Homo sapiens: one gene and its partners. The protein of the gene in region 1 purifies or fractionates together with the protein of each later gene. This does not show direct contact. Each region holds a gene or a part of one and is shown in the gene's direction. Other genes may lie near its edges. The genes, in order: BCL10, QKI, CASP8, CAMK2G, PPP2CA, BIRC2 and CSNK1A1.

The links.
Region 2: the proteins of BCL10 (region 1) and QKI purify together in Homo sapiens (co-immunoprecipitation; one study listed by IntAct). This does not show direct contact.
Region 3: the proteins of BCL10 (region 1) and CASP8 purify together in Homo sapiens (co-immunoprecipitation; one study listed by IntAct). This does not show direct contact.
Region 4: the proteins of BCL10 (region 1) and CAMK2G purify together in Homo sapiens (affinity purification with western blotting, with the first as the bait; one study listed by BioGRID). This does not show direct contact.
Region 5: the proteins of BCL10 (region 1) and PPP2CA purify together in Homo sapiens (affinity purification with western blotting, with the first as the bait; one study listed by BioGRID). This does not show direct contact.
Region 6: the proteins of BCL10 (region 1) and BIRC2 purify together in Homo sapiens (affinity purification with western blotting; 3 studies listed by BioGRID and IntAct, with this or other methods). This does not show direct contact.
Region 7: the proteins of BCL10 (region 1) and CSNK1A1 purify together in Homo sapiens (affinity purification with western blotting; 4 studies listed by BioGRID and IntAct, with this or other methods). This does not show direct contact.

What each region holds. Positions count from the first base shown.
Region 1 is NC_000001.11:85,266,633-85,270,132, reverse strand, and holds part of BCL10 (B-cell lymphoma/leukemia 10), read left to right. Parts: intron 1-2,150; coding exon 2,151-2,506; 3' UTR 2,507-3,500. UniProt on the Homo sapiens protein: Plays a key role in both adaptive and innate immune signaling by bridging CARD domain-containing proteins to immune activation.
Region 2 is NC_000006.12:163,533,218-163,536,717, forward strand, and holds part of QKI (KH domain-containing RNA-binding protein QKI), read left to right. Parts: intron 1-1,764; coding exon 1,765-1,908; intron 1,909-3,500. UniProt on the Homo sapiens protein: RNA reader protein, which recognizes and binds specific RNAs, thereby regulating RNA metabolic processes, such as pre-mRNA splicing, circular RNA (circRNA) formation, mRNA export, mRNA stability and/or translation.
Region 3 is NC_000002.12:201,267,036-201,270,535, forward strand, and holds part of CASP8 (caspase-8 isoform 2 precursor), read left to right. Parts: intron 1-2,474; coding exon of another isoform or gene 2,475-2,570; intron 2,571-3,500. UniProt on the Homo sapiens protein: Thiol protease that plays a key role in programmed cell death by acting as a molecular switch for apoptosis, necroptosis and pyroptosis, and is required to prevent tissue damage during embryonic development and adulthood.
Region 4 is NC_000010.11:73,864,556-73,868,055, reverse strand, and holds part of CAMK2G (calcium/calmodulin-dependent protein kinase type II subunit gamma), read left to right. Parts: intron 1-3,500.
Region 5 is NC_000005.10:134,198,574-134,202,073, reverse strand, and holds part of PPP2CA (serine/threonine-protein phosphatase 2A catalytic subunit alpha isoform), read left to right. Parts: intron 1-52; coding exon 53-226; intron 227-999; coding exon 1,000-1,089; intron 1,090-1,566; exon of another isoform or gene 1,567-1,577; coding exon 1,578-1,739; intron 1,740-2,869; coding exon 2,870-2,988; intron 2,989-3,500. UniProt on the Homo sapiens protein: Catalytic subunit of protein phosphatase 2A (PP2A), a serine/threonine phosphatase involved in the regulation of a wide variety of enzymes, signal transduction pathways, and cellular events.
Region 6 is NC_000011.10:102,357,214-102,360,713, forward strand, and holds part of BIRC2 (baculoviral IAP repeat-containing protein 2), read left to right. Parts: intron 1-3,500. UniProt on the Homo sapiens protein: Multi-functional protein which regulates not only caspases and apoptosis, but also modulates inflammatory signaling and immunity, mitogenic kinase signaling, and cell proliferation, as well as cell invasion and metastasis.
Region 7 is NC_000005.10:149,506,440-149,509,939, reverse strand, and holds part of CSNK1A1 (casein kinase I isoform alpha), read left to right. Parts: coding exon 1-61; intron 62-2,806; coding exon 2,807-2,913; intron 2,914-3,500.

The sequences.
Region 1 (3,500 bases):
TTTATAGAAAACTATTATGAAATCCCTGCATACATAAGGATTTGTTTCTAAAGTCAGTAGAATGTAAAGTTAATCTATTCAAGAGTAAGCTCTGAAAATACTGTACATCACACATAAAGAACAGTATTTAGGCAAAGTATTGTAAAAGTCCAACTCTGCTAGTTTTTCTTATGATCACCAGTTGATCACAAGATGAAGTAATTGGCATATGTTTATAGGAATCACGTTGCATAAAATATTCATGACTTTAAACTAGTCTGGCAAGATGTGAAAGCATGGAAACAGATTAAGAGAATAGCAGATTCACCTGTCCCATTTCACTCTCACTCCAGAATATACACTCACTGATTGGAATATTGTGTGGAATTGCCTACACAATTTAAATCCCCAACCCCCTCCTGCCTCTGTTCCTCACTGTCTCTCTCCAGAGCACATAAATGTGCATGTGATGTTCTACAGCTCTTCTAGGCATTAGGGATACAGAAAAGAATAATTTAGGGCTCTGCCCTTAAGGAACTCATAGTCTATAAGTGTCCCCTTGCTGGGACACATTACAAGTTTTCCCTTTTGAGCCATATCTAAGAAAGTAGTTTGTATAGCATGGAATAGACATGCTGACTGTACTGTGAGGTTGAAAAACTAGTGGAAGAAGTGACATGTAAGTGCCCTTTATAGACTATGCAGGTTTTGCCTAAAAATTGTCAACTCAGGGTTTCTGTGCCTGTAGGTTGAATATTTGCTAAGCCTAACAGAAGGGTAAATTGTGTTTGTGTTTATTCTTTCAATCCTCTGGATAATGGTTAACTATACCCTTTGGATATCATAAAATTCTTTGATGGTATCTAAGTTGTTTTCTGCTGTAGCAATACCTGAGACTGGGTAACTTTTAAAGAAAAGAAATGTATTCATTTCTTACAGTTCTGGAGGCTGGTTAAGTCCAAGACCATGGCGCCAGCATCTGGCAAGGGTCATGCATGGTGGAAGGGCAGAAGATGGAAGAGCAAGGGAGGGCAAGAGTGTGAAAGAGAAGAAAAAGGAGTCGAACTCCCAAAATAACTAACCCATTCCCGTGATAATGGCATTAGTCCAGGGCAGAGCCCTCATGACCCTGTTGCCTCCCAAAGGCCTCAGCTCCTAACACTGCTGCAGTGGCAACCAAGTTTCCAACATGTGAACTTTTGGCGGATACATTCGTACCACAGCTAATGGGAACAACCACTGTCATTTGAGTAAACTGTGAGGTTGAGAAACAGGACATTATCTATTGAATTGTAGTTCTCACTTTCCCACAAAGTAGTCCTGGAATGTTGGACATGACTTAACTGTCCTGTGCCTTTTTTTTCTCTTTTTTTTTTTTTTTTTTTGAGACGGAGTCTTGCTCTTGTCACCCAGGCTGGAGTGCAATGGCATGATCTCAGCTCACTGCAACCTCTGCCTCCCAGGTTCAAGCGATTCTCCTACTTCAGCCTCCTGAGTAGCTGCGATTGCAGGCACCTGCCACCACGCCTGGCTAATTTCTGTATTTTTAGTAGAGATGGGGTTTCGCCATGTTGGCCAGGCTGATCTCAAACTCCTGACCTCATGATCTGCCCACTTCGGCCTCCCAAAGTGCTGGGATTACAGGCGTGAGCCACCATGCCCCGCCCTTTTTTCTCGTCTTTAATAATAAGAGACTATCCTAGGTGACCTCTAAAATTCCTTTTAGTTCTAATATCCTATTATTCAAGAATTAGCCATTGTCATTGATCAACAGATAGAATTTTAGCATCTGCCGTTTACATTTTTTTATTAGCTAATATTTTTTGTACCAGAATACTAAAGAATATTTATTGTGAAAGCTATTTCTTATTTTATAAAAAATTTTAGGTGGTTAAGTTTATATGTACGCTGTACCTTAAATGAGAATTACAGCATGTCGTTTAACTTCCACGAGACTATTTTGTTATATAGAAAATGCAAATAATAGTATACTTCATGGTTGTTGAGAAAAGCAAATTAGATTTGAAATAGATTATGACGGAAATTACAAGTTGCTATTTAAATTTTGATTGTGGGGTAACTAGCTTGTAATCTTTAACAAGTCACAAGATGGACAGTGACTCCATTTTTTTAGTTACTTTTTCATTTACATCTGAATAATTTTATTGTAGGACTAAAATGTAGCAGTTGTGAACCTTTTCCAGATGGAGCCACGAACAACCTCTCCAGATCAAATTCAGATGAGAGTAATTTCTCTGAAAAACTGAGGGCATCCACTGTCATGTACCATCCAGAAGGAGAATCCAGCACGACGCCCTTTTTTTCTACTAATTCTTCTCTGAATTTGCCTGTTCTAGAAGTAGGCAGAACTGAAAATACCATCTTCTCTTCAACTACACTTCCCAGACCTGGGGACCCAGGGGCTCCTCCTTTGCCACCAGATCTACAGTTAGAAGAAGAAGGAACTTGTGCAAACTCTAGTGAGATGTTTCTTCCCTTAAGATCACGTACTGTTTCACGACAATGACACTTTATTGCCTTTTAATTTTTAATGATGACAAAAAATGTTTTAAAGAATATGACTTTTTATAAAATGGCTGTAATCATTTGTTTACATTTGATGCATGTCTTTTAAAATGCAATGTAAGCATACTTTGTAAATAGGATTTTTAGAATTAAAAAAGCATACTTCTAGGATAGCTAACTGTAAATCATGTTGATCATGTACTTTTTAGTAATTTCTTTTTTTCCTTTTTAAGGTCTTTCAGTACTTTTTTAAATATTTTCTATTTTAAGACTGATTTTAATAGGGAATATATCTCTATTTGAGAATAGACCCTTACTAGGAAGAACGTTTTTTCCTCAGTGCATTTGTGCTAGAAATTTTCAAGAGTCTAATAGTCTTTGCCAGTCATTCAGCAGCAAATTTTCAGCATTAAGCTGTTCCTGTTCAGTAATAAAACCGGTCACTGATGGGAAAACTGCCAATATAGAAAAATAAAAATCTCTTTTCCACTCCATTGTCGTATAGGCATGTAAACAGCCTCTTTTTGATACTGGAGGAACACTTGATGGAGTGTGAGCCACCTAAGATCTCGGTTTGCCAAAATTCATTTCTAATTAACCTTACTAATTATACTACTTTGTTAGGATTTTCACATTCTTGGCTTAATCATTTTCATTCCTAAAGAAAAATATCTTGGCCTAAACCTCAGTTATTACATGTAATTTGATGAGGTATTTTTTCCTTTTTTCTTTTTTTTTTTTTTTTTTTTTTGAGACAGTCTTGCTCTATCGCCCAGGCTGGAGTGCAGTGGCGCATTCTAGGCTCACTGCAACTTCTGCCTCCCATGCTTACGTGATCCTCTCACCTCAGCCTCTCAAGTAATATAGCTGAGACTACAAGTGTGTGCCACCATGCCTCACTAATTTTTGTATTATTTTTGTAGAGACGGTGTTTTGCCATGTTGGCCAGGCTGGTCTTGAACTCCTGGACTCAAGCAACCTACCCAGCGTGGCCT
Region 2 (3,500 bases), on another chromosome or scaffold:
GGATAACAAAACTAATTTTTCTTGCCACAGTTAGAGATATTAATACATATTTTATTTCTTGCCATACAGATAACCCTGAGGTTTCCAGTTTCTTGATTCATTGACTCCTTGGTTTCCCACTTAGTTTGCATGGTGTACCCTAGTCAAAAAGAAATATTTCAGAGTTCTGTTTATTAAATATTTACTCTACAAACAACTTTGAAACAGACTATACATTTTATTTGTAAATAACCACATTTTTACTAATAGCATTTGTATTTTCTTGGGTGCTGTTCAAATTCTCAAACTTTGGAATCAGATTTTTGTACTGCCACCCTCTTTTCTTGTTCCACATTGATTTTTGTATGTTCTTGATTTTTATTACAGCAACCGCTAACAACCTAGCTTTGTAAAGATATGACATCATCAAAAAGAATGTAATGTGACCTTATGTTGAAACAGTCAGATATTCTGAGCTGGTGGTTCACACAGTGTCGGACAGATGGTACCCCTGTAAAATGCTGTGCTGACTCAGAGTTCACTCTTTGGAAATACATAGATGGCCCAGCATAGGATTGTGTCTGATTTTTTTTTTCCCTGTATCCCCTTACAATATGTGGATGCATTTTCATCCTAAAGATGTGTTGATTAAAAATAAAGCAGAAGCATTTACTGTTAAAATTTATTTTTAGCCTTATTGGCTAAGCTCAATCATGTGAATTGTTGCAGAAAGCAGTTTTATTATGCCTGCTTTATTTTCTTTTACTGGAATCTAACAATTAGGTAAATAGTAACTTCTAAAATAAAGGTCCAAAAACAGCAGATATTTATTGTTTGTCTGTGGTACCTTGCTGTGTGCCAGGTGCATTTATATTTACCATTTATATACTACTTATATATTCTTATTTTATTTAAAAACACTTTCTCTAAAACTTAAAACAGCGATTCTGAAATTATGCCAACTCTACTTAACCTCCCTGTAGCTTAACCAGGTTTTCAACATGGGGATATTTCTTACTAGAAGACATTAAGGAAATGAAATATAGATATTCTCTATGAAACTAGTATTTATGACTTGATATAATTAAAGAGTAGCCTTACAGTTAATTTTAAGGTATGGTCTGATGGGAATGTAGATAAAACTATTTTCATAATTACCGCATGAAATACTTAAAACAAGTGGTAGTCATCTTACACAATAACATCTATATGCAAAATACCTTTTCTAATGCTGAATACAACCAATGTCATTAAAAGCAGTTGTAATGAAGTGGAAAGATCACTGAATTAGAGAATGAAAACTTTGATTCAGTTCCTAAATTGACAGCCTGTTAGCTGTGTGACATTGAGAGGTGACCCCCTTAACCTTGATGACCTTCTGTTTACTTATAAGTAAAATGCAGAAATAATGACATGTTTCTCAAAGTGTTTTTCATGGTAATGTAAGGACAGTATCAGATGTATGTTGTATGATACTACATACATGATGATGATGTATGCTTCTAGTGCATAGGAGCACGCTTGGGGCTGATCTTTAGCATCTGGTTCTGTGCCTGGTAGATAGTAAGTGCTCAGTAAATACTTGTTGGATTAATTATCATTTGACCCAGTAGTCTCACATTCAATCAAACTTTGAGGACCCAGAAAAATAATTCAAAGACTTGTGCCATCATAGCAAAATAATGCAAACATAGCTGAAATAATTGACAACAGGTTAGTATTATGAAAGATGTGCTCTCTCTTTAAAGAGAATAATTTTAATCATGTACTCTGTAAATTTTTTAGGAGGAGCAAAATAGAGGCAAGCCCAATTGGGAGCATCTAAATGAAGATTTACATGTACTAATCACTGTGGAAGATGCTCAGAACAGAGCAGAAATCAAATTGAAGAGAGCAGTTGAAGAAGTGAAGAAATTATTGGTACCTGCAGTAAGTAATAATTTCCAGACCTTAGATTTGGGCCTCGTCCTTTTTTGTCAGTTTATTTTAAATTATCGTAATGTTTATAAGGAATAGGTTATTGGTTGTTAGAAATTTTATTTAAGCATAAAATTAAAAACACCTGACTGATACTTCTAACATAATAAAAACATAAAGTTCGTATTTAGGGGTCCTTAGATAGACATTAAAAGGGGTTTTGGAGGGTGACGTCGCGTAAGAAATTATCCAGATGCTTTTGTGTTATCAGTTCTCCTTCCTTCCCGGTTTCTCTTTCCCCATCTCTTCCCCCATCTCTTCCCTCTGCCCCCCTTCCTTGGGTTGGCTCCTTATTGTTTCTTAACCCTTTAATATTTTTAGAAATAATAATTGTACTACTCCCAGAGTATAATTTTTTTTTTTTTAACGGGAAATGAAAAATAAATTACTGGTTTTCTGGGCCATTAATTTTTTTTTCTTATATTAGTAAAACTATATGGAAATGTGGACCCTAATTTGCTATTGGAAAAACTAGGGCTGGGTGCGGTGGCTCATGCCTGTAATCCCAGCACTTTGGGAGGCTGAGGCGGTTGGATCACCTGAGGTCAGGAGTTTGAGCCCAGCCTGGCCAACATGGTGAAACCCCATCTCTACTAAAAATACAAAAAATAAGTCGGGCGTGATGGCAGGCACCTGTAATCCCAGCTACTTGGGAGGCTGAGGCATGAGAATCGCCTGAGCCTGGGAGGCAGAGGTTGCAGTGAGCTGAGATTGCGCCACTATACTCCAGCCTGGGTGACAGAGTGAGACCCTGTCTCAAAAAAGAAAAGAAAAAACTAGGAATACTGTTAGTATTGTGTCCAACAAAAAGCATTGGCATTTACATAAATGAGTTATGGTTCCTGCTGCTTTTTATTTCCCAGATAGCCTATTCTTTATTACCCTGATAGTTTATTCAACAAGTAAACTCACAAATCATAAACATTTCCCATTAACTTGATGAAATTAATTCCTTGGAATAAAAGAGTTTTATGTAAATTCTGTTGGTAGATTTTATTTTTTTTAATGATCAGGTTAAATATAAACTAAAATCTATATTTGTGTACTATTAAACCATGGAATCTTTCTCATTTTCCTTAATTGTGTGGTATTGAAAAACTGTATAGAAAAGGAGATTTTCGAAAGTATACTGGGCAATTAGTGTCATGATCAGAAAAAGTTATTTAACATCGACTTTTACTGCTTTAATAACATTTTCTTTTCTGTAGCTTACTTTATTGTAAGAATACGGTATATAACATATAAAACATACAAAATATATGTTGATCAACTGTCAGGCTTCCAGACGACAGTGGGCTATTCGTCACATTTTGGGAGAGTTGAAAGTTACACAAGGATCTTTGATGCAGTCTGTGTCCCTGACAACCGAGCCCTCCCTTGTTGTTTGAGGATCAACTGGATATTGTTAGCGTCTTTTAAATTTTCTATTTACCCAGTCACCTGTAATCTCTTGTCTTGCTTACCATTTTTATTTCTAGTGTTTAGCATAGAGCCCAGCACATAGCAATAACATAGTAAATTGAAAAATAAATGATTGAATCTTG
Region 3 (3,500 bases), on another chromosome or scaffold:
ATCACTTGGGAGGCTTTGGGAAGATGTCCCACCGGAGCCAGATTAAGAAATTTAGGGGCCTTATATATAATTCTATAGAAATGCTAAGACCATAAAATAAAAATTTATTTTTCAAAGTGAAACATTACTTAGAGGTATGCTGAAGTTATAATAGAGTTTTTCTAAGTGTTCTCATTTTTTTCCTCTCTTATCTTGATGCCTCTCGATATCCAGATTGTGTGCTTACTTTGCCCATCCATTGAGTAAAGCATCATGGCTTCCCACCCTGAAATCCCCCTCCCACCTGCTTGCGGATGGCTATGAAAATTTTCAATGAGATTTAAGGGTTTTCTGCCACACTTAAAGACTCGAATGACTAAGTTCTTTACGGAGCTGTAAGCCGCTGGCCTGGCACATACAGCTAGGCAGTCTCCACCGAGGCTGCCCAGTTCCTGTGAGCCCGGCTGTATGACAGTTCTAAGCTTCTATAGGAAGACAGTGGCACGTTGGGTCATCCTGCCAAAGGCTGTAAAACTCAGCTTCTCCCCACCCTAGGGAGAGTGGGTAACCAAAGGTGTGAGAGAGAAACCCCATTCAGTTACAACTTCATGATGCTGTGACAAGACTTTAAAAACAGAAACACATTGTCACTTTCTCTCTTTCAACATCTCCTATTATCGGACACTACTTAAAGCAATTTTAGCTTTGCTTTCAGGAAACTTCTACTGAAGTCTTCGTTCTGGGCCCATTTCATTGTCTCTGTTTGCTTGTTGATAACTATGGCATGTGAGATGGAAAGGGTTCACAACCAGGGCTGACAGCTGCTGTCCTCTGATGGCTCAGCCCATGAATGCTCTGGTCTTTCTATTCTCAGAGACTATTTTTTGTTTTGAGGCTTGACTATTTTTTGTTTTGTTTTGTTTTGTTTTTGAGACGGAGTCTCGCTTCATCACCCAGGCTAGAGTGCAGTGGCATGATCTCGGCTCACTGCAACATCTACCTCCAGGGTTCAAGTGATTCTTCTGCCTCAGCCTCCTGAGTAGCTGGGATTACAGGTGTGTGCCACCATGCCCAGCTAATTTTGTATTTTTAGTAGGACGGAGTTCCACCATGTTGGCCAGGCTGGTCTCGAACTCCTGACCTTAAGTTATCCACCAGCCTTGACCTCTCAAAGTGCTGGGATTATAGGTGTGAGCCACCATGCCCAGCCAAGGCTTGACCATTTTGATTTTAAGTGAAAAAAGAGATATTCTGGGCCGGGTGAGGTGGCTCACGCCTGTAATCCCAGCACTTTGGGATGCTGAGGAGAGCTGATCACCTGAGGTCAGGAGTTCAAGACTAGCCTGGCCAACATGGTGAAACCTCATCTCTACTAAAAATACAAAAATTAGCTGGGTGTGGCGGCTCACGCCTGTAATCCCAGCTACTTGGGAGGCTGAGGCAGGAGAATTGCTTGAACCCAGGAGGTGGAGGTTGCAGTAAGCTGAGATTATGCCATTGCACTCCAGCCTGGGCAACAAGAGTGAAACTCTGTCTCAAAAAAAAAAAGAAAGAGATATTCTGGGTATATAAGTTTCCTAGGGCTGCTGTAACAAAGTAACACAAACTAGCAGGTTTAAAACAGTTTTTAAAATGTGTTTTCACAGTTCTGGAGGCCTGAGTCAGAAGTCAAGATGCCAACAGTGTTGGTTCCCTTTTAAGAGGCTCCGAGGAATAATCTTTTTCATGCCTTTCCCTGCTTCGGGTGGGTGGAGGAATCCTCAGTGCTCCTTGTCTTGTAGATGAGGCACAGCAGTCTCTGCCTATGTTCCCTTCTCTGTGTCTAAATCTCCCTCTTATGAGACAGTCACTGGATTAGGAATTAGGGCCCACCTAATCCAGTATGGCCTCATCTTTGTGTGTGTGTGTGTGTGTGTGTGTGTGTGTGTGTGTGTGTGTGTGTGAGACAGTGTCTCACTACATCGCCCAAGCTGGAGTGCAGTGGCATGATCTCGGCTCAGTGCAACCTCCACCTCCTGGGTTCAAGCAATCCTCCCACCTCAGCCTCCCAAGTAGCTGGGACTACAGGCACCCGCCACCATGTCTGGCTAATTTTTGTATTTTTTTGTAGAGATGGAGTTTCAAAATGTTGCCCAGGCTAGTCTTGAACTCCTGGGCTCATGCAATCTGCCCACCTCAGCCTCCCAAGTTCTGGGATTACGGGCATGAGCCACTGCGCCTGGCCAGCATGACCTCATCTTAATGAGATTTTATCTGCAAACGTCCTGGGTCCACATAAGGTCGCATTCTCATATTCCAGATAGACATGAATTTTGGGGAAGAGGGGAGAACACTATTCAACCAGTACACTAGATAGCTTTGGTTTACTAGCATTGTGAAGTCTTTATAAGGCACTTATTCATTAAGGCGCCAGTTAGTCCTAAAAACCCACAGCCCCAGAACAAGGAAAGCCGAGGGGGGTCTCATCTTGTGCCCACCATCTTGGTCCTTTGAAGGTTCCACTTCTGCCGCATGAGCTGGGCTGAAGCAAACAGCCAGTGCCAGACACAGTCTGTACCTTTCTGGCGGAGGGTCGATCATCTATTAATAAGGCAGGATCTCTCTTAAAATCTTTAATGTATTGGCTTAGAGATAAAAGGGTCCGGGCAATCCTGACTTACTGCTTGTTCATTATCATTGAATACTAGCCAGAAGCTAATAAATATGCTAGGGTGACCACTTACCATTATAAGAAAACACTAGACATTTTATTTTCCAGTTATAATTGCTACCTATAAAATAAAGATCTTATAAACTATTCAGGTTCATTACTAAATGGTGATGGTACAAGAAAGCCTATAGGCTTCAATAATGAGGAAAGCAAAAGGGTAAATACCTTGTAATAAAGGTGAAAGAGTCAGAGTAGCTTTGGATTAGATCCAATTTTGGCCAAACTGAAAGCTTTAGATAAACACTTCTAGGGTAGAGAGTCCATGAGAAGGGGGATAAGGCAGATGGTAATACTGAGTAATTTCTGTTTCTACGCCATTTTTATTTTCAGAATTTTACTTTTCTAATTAAATTTTAAAGTCAACGTGTTTTTGTATTAAAATTATTTTCCTTTACACCATAGTATTGAAAGGTTTGCTGACTTCTAAAACATTCCTTTGTTCACCTATTCGACAAGCATATTCCAAGAGCCTAAATGTGCCAATCACATAAATGTGATAGGCATAGATTAGGAAATAGTAACACCTATCACTCATTGAGCACTTAGTGTGTTGCCAAAGACTGATTTAAGTACTTCACATAAACTTATTTGTGTAACCCTCGAAACCTTCCTATGATGTGGTTACGGATAATTATCTTCAGTCTATGGACGAGGAAAAAATGTGTAACATGTCTAAAGTTAACACTGCTCAAAGATAGTGGAACCAAGGCTCCAACACCAATAGCCTGGGTCCGCTGAGCTCAATCATTGCACCTCACAACCCTCTGGGTTTATGAAAATAAAAAGGGTACGGACCTGGCCACTAGGGGAC
Region 4 (3,500 bases), on another chromosome or scaffold:
CAGGAGGAGATGGGCACTTTGCACCTCTTGAATGCCTCTCTGCAGAGCCCCTTTGTCACCTACCCATGGCCAGACAGATCTGCCGCAGGACCGCTGGGGAAATCAAAGCACAAAAGCTTTGTCTGGGGTCTTTTTTTTCTTTTTTGGTTTTGTGCTGCAGGTGCCCATGACTTTGCCAGGGCTCAGACCCAGCGTCCTCAGGCCGTGTGGCCTCCACCCACTCCTTGGCGCCTTTCTTTAAAACACAGGTTCTGGATACTTTGTTCCTGTGATGAATCTTGGCATATCACCTCACACCTCTCCATCTAGGCCCCAAGCTCCAAGCCTGGTGGAGCAAATCCCTCCTCGTTGCTGGCTGAGGCCCCATTCCCGTCTGTACCCACCTCTCTGGGCTGTGCGGTGGGGAGATTTCCAGCCACTCCTCCCCAACACCATCTCCGCTTCCTGGGCCCTATCAGCAGCAGCCGCAGCTTCCCATCTGCTCCCCTCTTTTCTCCTCCCTTTCTTTCCCTTCCCCCCTGCTTGCTGCTGCCCTGGGAGGAGCTATTTTTAGGGGCTGCTTCCTGGGATGTTTTACTTGGGGCTGGTTACCATGAAGGAAATGTCACCAAAACAGTGGGCAAAGGCTGCAGGCACCGGGAGCCCTGCCGGGGGGCATGGAGAACAGACGGCTGACCCTTTTCTGGCCCTTGAGAGCAGCCAGAGTGCCCCCAGGCAGAGCCTTGCCTTCTTGGGGCTTGCTAGTGACCCCTTGGGGATTTTCTCTGTCAAAGCTGATTGAGGGCCTTTTCGCTATAGGGCATTTCTTGGAGCCTCTCGCTTCCCTTGCCTTGAGATCCAGAGGCCAAAGTGGGGCTCAGGTCTTTGTGTCACCAAGTTAAAACTGCTTGAGTGAGGGTTGAAGATAAGGGGAGGATGCTGGGTACATGCACAGAGCCTTGGGGGTTCACATGGGACCATTTCAGGCCCCGTCCCTCTGTATCACAGCCCCCAGCTAGTCACCAGGTGTACATGTGTGAGGGCATTAGAAACCATGGTCCTGCTCTTGTGTGTCGGATGGACTTTGCTTTTAATTGGAGACTCTTTGCATCTTTAGAGTGAGATTCAAAGAGGAAGGGATGTGGCATCACAGTGTCAGGGTGAGGTCGGTGGGATCGTGGCTTGGGATTCCCACTGGTCAGTGTCCCAGGCCCAGGGCTGTGCATAAGCAGCTGGGGAAGGTGGATTATGACATCAAATCCCTGCGATGTCCTTGTTTCTGCTCCTCAGAGTGCCAAGGGGACCAGACGGCGGCCTCTGCTGCTTGGGAAGAAGATGAAAGGCACTCAGGAGGGCAGCAAGTGAGGCCGCCTCCCATGGAGCCCTGAAATCAGTGGGGTTGCAGGAAGTTTCTCACATCCATGTTTAGGGTCATAGGCACAGACCTGCAAAATACCCTTTACAAAGTTAAGAATGTCTTTGAGATTGGAACTTGGGAGAGTCCTCAGTCAGAGTAGGAATGTGCATCCTTTCCCACGTACAGAGGATTGTATGTTTACGTGGCAGCAGGATCTTATTTGAAGCTAGTGCTGGCATTTGTGTTTTTTTTTTAGGAAAATGTCACTAAGTCAAGCAGGCCCATCCCTGAGAGGGCCATGGAGAATCTGTGGCCAGCCCTCCCTGGCCCCCTGACCTGGCAGAGGAAGGAAAGGGCATTGGAGTAGGCTTCTGTCTTCAGGCCAGAGGGGGAGGTGGTTCAGGGGCAGGCTTGGTGCACCCCTTGGCTGCAAGCTATCACCTCCCTATCTGCTTCCTCTTTTCTGCCTCCCCTGGTGCATCTGGTCACTTCTTGCTGCCCTTCCTGTGAAATCGTGGCACCTTGGACCAAGTCCTGAAGCACTTGGGCAGAAGGCGGGAGAGGTTGGGTTTCTAGGATCCTTGTTTCCCAGGGCCTGGCTCTGGCCTGGGCTCAGACCACTCTGGTCTAGGCAGGCTGCTGGGGAAAGGCTGGAGCTGCTTCTGCTTTCTGCTCCTGTTGCCACCTCTGCTAATGATGGGGAAAACCTGCAGAGGGCTGTGGTTGGAGCTGGGCTGAAGGCCGGCAGGGGTGGGTCTCTCCATGGCAGTAGCACACAGGCAGGCAGGAAGTGGCCCTGTGCAAAAGCGGGAAGTGGCAGTTGTCAAACAGGAAGGGGGGGGCTGGGCTGTGGGAGGGGCGGGGATGAGCCTGGTAGAAAGGTGCGTGGAGGAGGGTCCACCTTGGAAGGTCTGAGCCTCTCCCTAGTGGTTACTGGAAGGAGGGGTGTCTCAAGGGGAGACACCTTTGCAGCACCTTGAGATGCCGAGCCAGGGCCCTCCCACTGTGGACCAAGCCCATTCAGTGGCCTCGCCCTTTTTGGGGTTGGAGATGCTGCGTCCAGCTGGGATGCCCTTGCTTTTGGGAAAGATGCTCTAGAAACCACTACTCCATCCTGGAACCCCTCTGCTGCCACTGCTGCTGGGATGGACCCTCTGCTTTTTTGCAGCCGTGGGCCAGCCCTGGATGTGACTACAGGACAGGAAGTGTCAGGGGAAGAGACAGGAGACAACAGCTGGAGAGGCTGGGTGGTGGCCGGGCAGTATGTGGCAGCAGGAACGGGGAGAGCGGGGCAGGTAGAAACTGCTCTGTTCATTGAGGAGAGCTTGTGGATGGCAGGGTGCCACGGCTGCGAGGAAGAGGAGGGAAGCGGACAGTGGCACTTCCTGCGGCGTTCCCCTCTCTCTGAGGAGCCCCTGTTGCTGCCCATCACCTGCAGACTGTAGACACAGGTGGGCCCCGCCAAAACAGGGAGGGACACTCCACCTCCAGGACTGCAATGGAGGACCATGTGGGGAGCCCAGAAGCCAGGCAGGAGGGCTTAGTTGCTGTGTTGCAGACCCTGCATCTGCCTGGGCTGAGGGGACAGTGGGTCCCATTCACAGTGTCTCTGGTGATAGCTGTGGCCACAAGCCCAGCCCAGGAGACCCTGTCAAGCTTCTCACTGGGCCCTTGGAAAGGAGCTATATGCCAGACCTTATGCAAAACTCTTGACCTGTACCACCTCAGTTAAACCTCAGATCTTGCTGTCTCTATTTTAGAAGTGAGGAACCTCTTGGCCGGGTGCCGTGGCTCACGCCTGTAATCCCAGCACTTTGGGAGGCCGAGGCAGGCGGATCATAAGGTCAGGAGATCGAGACCATCCTGGCTAACACAGTGAAACCCCGTCTCTACTGAAAAATACAAAAAAATTAGCCGGGCATGGTGATGGGCGCCTGCAGTCCCAGCTACTCGGGAGGCTGAGGCAGGAGAAGGGCGTGAACCTGGGAGGCGGAGCTTGCAGTGAGCCGAGATCATGCCACTGCACTCCAGCCTGGGCAACAGAGTAAGACTCCATCTCAAAAAAAAGCAAAAAAAACAAACAAAAGAAGTGAGGAACCTCTTTCCCAAGATAATGTGCCTGGCTCACTGTCTCACCTACTTTGGGTCCTAATCAAATGTCACC
Region 5 (3,500 bases), on another chromosome or scaffold:
CATTGGTTTTTGAAAGAGCTAGTTGTTTATGTTTTGCATTTTATTGTTTTAGGTTCGTTACCGTGAACGCATCACCATTCTTCGAGGGAATCATGAGAGCAGACAGATCACACAAGTTTATGGTTTCTATGATGAATGTTTAAGAAAATATGGAAATGCAAATGTTTGGAAATATTTTACAGATCTTTTTGACTATCTTCCTCTCACTGCCTTGGTGGATGGGCAGGTATGTGGATCTAAAACTCATTGCTGATTATTTCAGAGAATCTGCTTTCTTTAGTGTTCAGGTGCTTATGACTCTTTCCACTCTTAACACCCCTTTGGGGATATTTTTTAATAGATATTGATAGCATTCATTCAAACTTAAAAAAAATTTAATTTGACAAATGTGTCCAACTTTTTTAAGTGCATTATTCTTTATATCAGGCACTGAACTGTATGGTGGGATCACAGGGGTGGGTGATGTAGCCCATTTACCCTCTCAGACTGTTTTTGGACAAGTCTGGGAGATGTAAGGAGCTAATTATTGGCCTAGGTAGATGTGCACACAAAAGAACTTACAATAAAATTTTATGAGTATGAAGATACTAGTCTCTGGCAAAGGGCAGGAGTGATATCCAAGAAGTTTTCTCAAAGGAGCTGTTTGAAGTGGAGTCTGGTTGTGACAGCGATGGTCTATTAGGAAGAACAGGAGTGTACTCAATAGTTCAGAGTGGGCTGGAGCAAAGATGAACCCTGCAAAGTCAAGTCTCATTCAGGCAGAGCACAGAAACACCAGAGGGGCCAAGTGATGGGGGTGCCCAGCTCATTTTTTAAAATTTTTGTAGAGACACAGGGTCTTGCTGTGTTGCTCAGGTTGGTCTCAAACTCCTGGCCTCAAGCAGCCCTCCTGCCTCAGCTTCCCAAAGTGCTGGGGTTACAGGCATGAGCCACTGTGCCCAGCCAAGAATGTTTACAAATTTTTTAGGTGAGGTTAACCTTTTAAACCACTCTTTTCAGATCTTCTGTCTACATGGTGGTCTCTCGCCATCTATAGATACACTGGATCATATCAGAGCACTTGATCGCCTACAAGAAGTTCCCCATGAGGTATGACTTTTATTTGATAAAATTCTTTCAGAAAACTTATTAGGGAGTGGAGAAGTTTAATTGTAAGTTCATTAGATGTATTCTCTCATATAATTCTCAAAAACAACTTGAGGTGTGAGCACTCTTGTCTGCCCTGTTGTTCAAAAGAAGCTGACATTAAGAAACCTGCCAAGATCACAACAGCTGTGAAGCTGGGCTTATTAGGACCTGGGTTGTCTGTCTTAGACTCTGAAATTTGCATAATATAGGCAGATTAATTAGGGCATGTTGCTGCTGGGTCCCATGGATGTCAGCTGTGTCTCATAAAGTCTGCTGGAAAATACATCTTATTTGATGCAGATGTTTGACTTCAACTGCACAGTCTATTAGCATTGTCCACAAACATCACTCAAAAAGGGTGGCTTAGGGTGCTGCTTCTGATGAATTACTCAAATAATGTGTTAACCATGTTTGTAAAAGGCATTTTATAACTTGAAGTTATTTTTTAGGGTCCAATGTGTGACTTGCTGTGGTCAGATCCAGATGACCGTGGTGGTTGGGGTATATCTCCTCGAGGAGCTGGTTACACCTTTGGGCAAGATATTTCTGAGACATTTAATCATGCCAATGGCCTCACGTTGGTGTCTAGAGCTCACCAGCTAGTGATGGAGGTATGCTGTGTTCTCTGAAATATGACTTGTTTTTTTAGTAAACTTAAGGAAAGAAGATATTAGGGAGTTTTAAATTAATGACATTTGTGAGAAATTCCATCTATTCCTTCTGATGAGTTTATCATTATAGCCTGAGCCTTTTCAGTAGATGCACACTACTAGAATTAAAAGCTCAAGCTTTTGATTACAATGAATCCATTAACATGTTTTCAGAGAAATCTGAATGACTAGGAAGTACTTGAGATTTAAGAGTGGGAAAGTAAGATATAGGGAGTTGGTGTGCATGTATGATATTTTATGATCCCAATGTTATTTCGTATATTTAATGTATGTATGTAGGAGAGACTGGAAAGAAATACACGAAAATGTTTTAAGTGGTCCTTTGGATGCTAGGATTACAGGTGATTTGAAAGAAGGGAAAGAGGCAAAGGTTCTTGACATGGCACACTGATTAGAATATTTTTAAAATAAGGTCCTAATTAGATTAATACTAGTACAACTCTGTGGTTATCAATAAAATCTGACTTTGCTAAAGGTAAAGAAATTGTGAACAATACTAAACAAAAAGTAACAAAAGTAGCTCATGCATTCAGGTGGATGGACTTTGAGGAAATGAGGCTGGAGATCCTAGAGGCATATTGCATTTGTTCCTGGGCAGTGACCAACTTAACAGGCCTTTACCTGTGACTGACAAAATTGGTAAGGTTCTGGTCTCCAGGATTAAGTATCTACTTCTCTAGGGAATGGCCACTTAAATACTTATTCTTAAATCATGTTTTAAGGCCACTGCAAGAGAAGAGGCTAATGAGACATTGTCATTTACAGCAAGGCAGATACATGAGAAGTATTTCATTCTTTGGTGGTTGCTGCTGTTTGTTAAAGCCTTTTTTTTTTTAAAGTACTAAAAAAAAAACAAGTTTTGTAATTAGGGGGAAAATAAATACATGTGTACCTTACAGGTTGTATAAAGTACAGGAGATTATTAAGTCATCCAGAAAAAAAGCATTAACATTTCTTAAGCCCCTTTGGCAGGGGTGGGAATGAGTAGAGATTTTTTTCTCTCTTGAGTGAAGTAACATTTAGTTGAATTGAGGGAGTAAAGTAAGATTTTTGTCTCCTTTTCCTTGCAGGGATATAACTGGTGCCATGACCGGAATGTAGTAACGATTTTCAGTGCTCCAAACTATTGTTATCGTTGTGGTAACCAAGCTGCAATCATGGAACTTGACGATACTCTAAAATACTCTTTGTAAGTAATTCTACCTGAACATTTTCTTGCATTACTGAATATGTAGGGTTTTGGTTTATTTATTTTGAGAGAGAGGGTGTCACTATATTGCCCAGTCTTGTCTCGAACTCCTAGGCTGAAGTGATCCTTTCACCTTGGCCTCCTAGAGTGTTGGGGTTACAAGTATAAGATACAGTGCCCAGCCTGAATACATAGTTTAAATGTGAGGTTTAAGAGTTTAAGGGGGCCAGGCGCGGTGGCTCATGCCTGTAATCCCAGTACTTTGGAAGGCTCGGGTGGATCACCTGAGATCAGGAGTTCGAGACAAGCCTGACCAACATGGTGAAACCCCTTCTCTACTAAAAATACAAAAATTAGCCCAGCATGGTGGCGCCTGCCTGTAATCCCAGCTACTCAGGAGGCTGAGGCAGGAGAATGGCATGAATCCGGGAGGCAGAGGTTGCAGTGAGCCAAGATCGCGCCACTGCGTTCCAGCCTGGGCAACAGAGCGAGACTTCGTCTCAAAAAAGTGT
Region 6 (3,500 bases), on another chromosome or scaffold:
TTGGCTTCATAAAATGAGTTTGGAAGTATTCCCCCCTCCTCCCTCCTTACTCCCTCTTCCCTCCCTCTTCTTCCTTCTTCCTCCTCCTCCCTTTTCTTTCTTCTTCCTCCTTCTTTCCTCCTCCTCCTCCTCTTCCTTCTTCTCCTCCTCTTCCTTTCTTCTTCTTTCTTCTTCTTGATAGAACTGTGCTATGAGGTCATCTGTTCCTGGGCTTTTTCTTTGTCAGAAGAGTTATGACTACTGATTCAATCTCCTTACTAGTTATAAGTCTTTTCAGATCTTCTATTTCTTCTTTATTTTAGTCTTGATAAATTACAAGTTTCTAGGAATGCATCCATTTCTTCTAGGTTATACAGTTTTTTGGTGAATAATTGTTCATGGTAGTCTCTTATGGTCATTTGCGTTTCTGTGTTATCAATGGTAACATCTCTTGGTTTTGATTTTATTTATTTTCGTCTTCCTTTTTACTAGTCAAACTAAAGCTTTGTTGATTTTACTTATCTTTTCAAAATCCAGCTCTTAGTTTTAGTGGTCTTTTCTATTGTTTTTGTAGTCTCTATTTCATGAGATTTTGTTATTTCCTTCTGCTAACTTTTTCTAGTTCCTTTAGATGTAAAATTACGGTGTTTATTTAAGATTTTTTTTAAATATAGGCGATTATTGCTATAAACTTTCCTTTTAGAACTGCATTTGTTCTATACATTTTGCTATGTCGCATTTCAATTTTAATATTTCTTGTGATTTTTTAAAATTTTCTTTTTGATTTCTTCTTTGACCCATTGATTATTCAGGAGTATTTTGTTCAATTTCCACATAGTTGTCAGCTTTCCAACTTTCATTCTGTTATTGATTTCTGGTTACATACCATTGTGGTCTGAAAAGATACTTGATAGGATTTCAGTCTTCCTCAGTTTGTTGAGTCTTGTTTTGTGACCTGCTGCATGATCTACGCTGGATAATTTTTCTTGTGTGCTTAAGAAGAATGTGTATTATCTGCTGTTTGATGGAATGTTCTGTATAAAGGTTGAGTATCCCCAATCCAAAAATCCAAAATCCAAAATGTTCCAAAATTTAAAACTTTTTGAGTACCAACATGATGCTGAAAGGAAATGCTCTTTGGAACATTTTTGGTTTTGCATTTTTGGATTAGGGATGCTCAGCTGGTAAACATAAGGCAGGTATTCCCAAATCTAAAAAATGTAAAATTCAAAACACTTCTAGTCCCAAGCATTTCAGATAAGGAATATTCAACCTGTATGTTAGATCCATTAGATCCAGTGTATAGTTGAAGTCCAATATTTCCTTACTGATTTTCTGTCTGGATGACCCATCCATTATTGAAAGTAGGATTTTTGAAGTCTTCTAGTATTATTGTGTTACTATCTATTAATGTCTTCAGATCTGTTAATATTTTCTCTGTTTATTTAGGTGGTCTGATGTTGGGTACATATATATATTTACAGATACTGTATCCTCTTGTGGAATTGGCCCCTTTCTCATTATATAATTACTTTCTCTGACTCTTTTTACAGTTTTTGATGTAAAGTCTGCCCTATCTGATAAAACTTTAGCTTCCTCTGCTCTCTTTTGGTTTCCATTTGCATGGAATATCTTTTTTCCTATACCCATGCATGTGCTTAAAGGTGAATTGAGTCTCTTGTAGACAACCTGTAGCTGAATCTTGTTTTCTTTATCCATTCAGCTGCTCTTTATCTTTTGATAGGAGAATTTGGCCCATTTACATTCAAGGTAACTATTGATGGGTAAAGACTTCTGTCATTTTGTAATTGTTTTCTGATTGTTTGGCAGATTATTTGTTTCTTCCTCTCTTGCTGTCTTCCCTTGTGTTTAGATGATTTTCTGTGGTGGTATGCTTTGATTCCTTTATATCTTTTGTGCATCTACTATTGGTTTCTACTTTGTGGCTATCATGAGGTTTACATAGAACATCTTATAGTTATAGTAGTCTGTTTCAAGCACTAACAACTTAATTTCAATTGCATTAAAAAACTGTACTGTTACTCAGACCCTCCTGCACATATTTTATGTTTTTGATGTCATTATTTGCATTTTATATTGTGTATTCATGAAAAAATTATTGAAGCTATAGTTATTTTTAATACTTTTTTTTAAAAACCTGTATTTTAGAATTAAGTAATTTACACATGACCATTACAAATTTAGTATATTATTAATTTGATTATATATTTATCTTAACAGTGAGTTTCATACTTTCATATGTTTCCATGTTGCTAATTAGTGTCCTTTCATTTCAGCTTGGAGAACTCTTCAGCGTTTCTTGTAAGGCGCGTCCAGTGGTGATAAACTCCCTCAGCTTTTGTTTGTCTGGGACTGTTTATATCTCTTTCATTTCTGAAGGACAGCTTTGCTGGGATACATATTCTTGTCTGGTAGTTTTGTCTTTCAGCACTTTGAATATATCATCCAACTCTCTCCTGGCCTACAAGGTTTTTGCAGAGAAATCCACTTGTGGTCTTATAGGGTTTCTCTTGTAGAAGATGAGTTTCTTTTCTGTTACAGTTTTAAAATTCTCTTTCATCTTCTATTTTTGCCAGTTCATTATAATGTGTGTCAGTGAAGTCTTCTTTGGGTTGAATCTTTATGGGGTCCTATGAACTTCCTGTACCTGGATATCTTTCCCTAGATTTATGAAGTTTTCAGCATTTTTTTTTTAAATCAGCTTTCTGTCCTTTCTCTCTTTTCCTTCTTGAATTCTCGGGTTTGTTTTTCATTTTCTTGGGTTTTTTTTTTTGATGGTGTCTTGTTCTGTCACCCAGGCTGGAGTGCAGTGGCATGATCTCAGCTCACTGCAACCTCCACCTCCCAGGTTCAAGTGATTCTCCTGCCTCAGCCTCCCACGTAGCTGGGACTACAGGTGTGCACCACCATGCCCAGCTAATTTTTGTATTTTTAGTAGAGACGGGGTTTTGCCATGTTGGCCAGGCTGGTCTTGAACCCCTGACTTCATGTGATCCACCCGCCTCAACCTCCCAAAGTGCTGGATTACAGGTGTGAGCCATCGTGCCTGGCCTTGAATTCTTAAAATGCAAATATTGTTTTGCTTGATGGTGTCCTATAATTCAGGTAGGCTTTCTCCACTATTCTTTTTTTTTTCTTTTTTTCTCCTCTGACTAGATAATTTCACATGATCTGCCTTTGAGTTCACAGGTTCTTCTGCTTGATCAGGTCTGCTATTGATGCTCTCTATTGCATTTTTTGTTGTTATGTTCTTCAGCTCCCGAATTTGTTTCTTTTTATTATTCCTATCTCTGTGTTGAATTTCTCATTTGTTTGTATATATTTTTTTATTTCATTATCTGTGTTCTTTTGTAGCTCACTGAGTTTGCTTGAAACAATTATTTTGAATTCTTTATCTGTTAGTTCATAGATCTCCATTTCTTTGTGGGTGATTACTGGAAAATTACTGAGTTTCTTTGCTAATGTCACGTTTCTTTTTTTTTTTTTCTTTCTGTTTCTTG
Region 7 (3,500 bases), on another chromosome or scaffold:
ACAAAAATATGAAAAGATTAGTGAAAAGAAGATGTCCACGCCTGTTGAAGTTTTATGTAAGGTAAGTATGCATGATGAATATTAAAAAAATATAAATGAAGCCAGGCACAATGGCTCACACCTGTAATCCCAGCACTTTGGGAGGCCAAGGCAGTAGGTCACATGAGCCCAGGAGTTCAAGACCAGCCTGGGCAACATAGGGAAACCCCATTTCTACCTTAATAGATAAATGATCCGGCTGGGCACAGTGGCTCAAGCCTGCAATCCCAGCACTTTAGAAGGCCGAGGTGGGCGGATCACTTGAGCCCAGAAGTTCCACAAGACCAGCCTGGGCAACATGGTGAAATACCTTATCTACCAAAAATACAAAAATTAGCTGGGTGCAGTGATACACGTCTGTGGTCCCAGCTACTCAGGAGCCTGAGGCAGGAGGATCACTTGAGCCCGGGAGGCTCCAATTGCAGTGGTGAATCTTGGCTGTCTTGCAAGGATCTGAGATTGTGCCACTGCACTCCAGCCTAGGTAACAGAGTAAGACTCTGTCTCAAATGAGTGAATGAATGAATGATCCAGGAAGAAAAAGGAACATTTTATTTGCCAGCTCTGGAACTTGTAACATTGAATTAGGTAGCTATTCACCATTTTAAATTTACATTTTTATTATTCTAAATATCTTTAACAAGGACTTTTAACATAGGGGTCTTTTTAAATAAGTGTTTTGCTAGGCACAGTGGCTCACAGTTGAGGAGCCACTTGGTAGGCTGAAGGAGGGTGGATCGCTTGAGCCCGGGAGTTCCAGACCAGTCTAGGCAACATGGTGAAACCCCATCGCTACAAAAAATGCAAAAATTAGCCTGGCATGGTGACGCATGCCTGTAATCTCAGCTTCTTGGGGATGCTGGGGCAGGATGCTTGAGCCCAGGAGGTCGAGGCTGCAGTGAGCCAAGATTGCACCACTGCAGTCCAGCTTGGGTGACAGAGTGAGACCCTGTCTCAACAACAACAAAAATAAGTAAAATAATAAAAAATAAGTTAAATAAACGTTTTAAGTAAGTAAAATAAGTGTTTTATGTTTCTGGTTTGTTAGGGCTCTCTAATCTGTTGAAAACTAGGGGTAAATAAACAGGGCAGGTAAACATTTTCAATAGAACCTCATTAATCTATAAGAAAAAGTAAGAAATATTCTCCTTACCCTAAACTAGTGCTGGAAAAGAAAGGTTATCAACAATTAGTACATTAAGGAACAGGGAAACATGCAGACAGATTGGAGCAATCCAAAATAGCAGCTGTCCAACAATACAGGAATACAGAAGACAGTTTGAATCACACTCATTTTTTCTGAAATTTTCAACTTCATAGAAAGGCAATTGAGTTTAGAATAGAGAGGTATTTGTGTCATGATGAATAACCATGATCTCATCCATAAAAAGAAGGCCATATGGTCTTTCAGACAAGAAAGAATTGTATACCTGAAATTAAGTACAAAGCAGTATACAAATAAATAGTTGAGGGAAGAAATCAGTGAGAGTTAAAATAGTAATTATAAAGTGGTGAGATTGTTTTCAGTCTCATTGTCATACTGTTTACCATTAACACGGGCCATAAATGTATATAAATGTTGAGTTTTAGAAAGATGTATAATATGTATTATTTTACATCTTTTAACATATGTATATGTTTCAAGTGGTCACCCAATTTATATCGGTGCAATCAATAAAAAATGTTGCAAGCATTTCCATTCTATCCTTCCTAACTCCAGGACATGAGAAATTTCTCATAAGGTTGTAGAAAGAGATTGTAACTTTAACTCTACAATCATAAGGTTGTAGAAAGAGACTGCCTCCTTTAACTTTACCACTCTCCACATTGGCATTTACTCTAGGAGAGGAGATATAGAGGTTTGTGCTCTTTTAATATTTTGTATTTCCACATTGCTGATTGGGGAAATCCTTTTGGTGACTGATACCTAGAGCCTTGAAAATGTTTATACATTGTTGAGAATCTTTCCTAAGGAGCTAAATGGAAAAATTCTATGCCCACAGATGTACTTAGCAGTATTATTAATAATAGAGAAAAATTAGAATACATCCAAATGTTCAATTATAAAGAACAAGTTAATGATGTATATACTAGGTAGAATATCATGCAACCATTTAGAAACTTCTGAAGGCTGGGCATGGTGGCTCACACCTGTAATCCCAGCACTGTGGGAGACCAAGGAGGCCAAGGGGGGCAGATCTCTTGAGCTCGGGAATTTGAGACCATCCTTGGCAATCTGACAAAACCCTGTCTCTACTAAAAAATACAAAAAATTAGCTGGGCGTGGTAGCTCGTGTCTGTAGTCCCAGCTACTCAGGAAGCTGAGGTTGGAGGATCGCTTGAAGCCTGGGAGGTGGAGGTTGCAGTAAGCTGAGATTACACTACTGCACTCCAGCCTGGGAGACAGATTGAGACCCTGTCTTTAAAAAAAAAAAAAGTTCACGAAGAGGCGCGACTTTGATAAAATGACAGGTTTTAACAAGTGGGCTATGTAAGTTATTTAAGAACATAGTACTGTATAGGAAAAGCACTATATGGGAAGAACATATGTATTTCTTCTACTAATATTGTACATAATAGGGTAGGTAGGGTCATGAAATTTTATTTAAATTTATGAGGAGACCAAGCCATCATTTTAGCTCTCATATCTTCCTATGAAATGGTAAAATATCCCGCCCAAAAATATCTTTTTGCTTATACTTAAATGCATTTATTTTTCTATCTTGAAATGTTTGTTTTTAACTTTGTTTTAACCCTTGAACCTATAGGGGTTTCCTGCAGAATTTGCGATGTACTTAAACTATTGTCGTGGGCTACGCTTTGAGGAAGCCCCAGATTACATGTATCTGAGGCAGCTATTCCGCATTCTTTTCAGGTCAGTTTTTAAGGTATTTTAAGATTATAAACTCTGTGAGGGAAATTGGTTAAATTTACCTAACAAATTCATTCTGATAAATACTAAAGTAAAGCAGATCTAGCTAACATGAATAAAAGGTTTCAGAAACTGATTTATTTGGGACTAATTTGGCATTTTTCTATTTGTAGTGTAAATAGGTGATTTTAGTTTGGAGTGGATAGAGAGTTGAATCATACTCAAAGTAGAATGTAACTTTTCCAGAATAGTTATAATTCATATTAGATATAAGTGGCTGTCAGTGCCTTCTGGAACTCTCCAACTTTGTACAGTACCAAATAAAAAGCAATTAAAATATCACATAGTCATGGAGTCTGATCAAGTGGTAGCAGTCCTAAACTAGGGTAGGGTTCCTTAGGCACAACCCAGAACTGGTCTTGAAAAAGGGGGGGGAATAGATTACATGTGGCTCAAACTCTTAGTTGGAAGAGAGTAAGAATTGAGGTAATCCGCCCAGGTACGGTGGCTCACGCCTGTAATCCCAGCACTTTGGGAGGCCGAGGCGGGCAGATCGCTTGAGGTCAGGAGTTAGAGACCAGCCTGCCCGA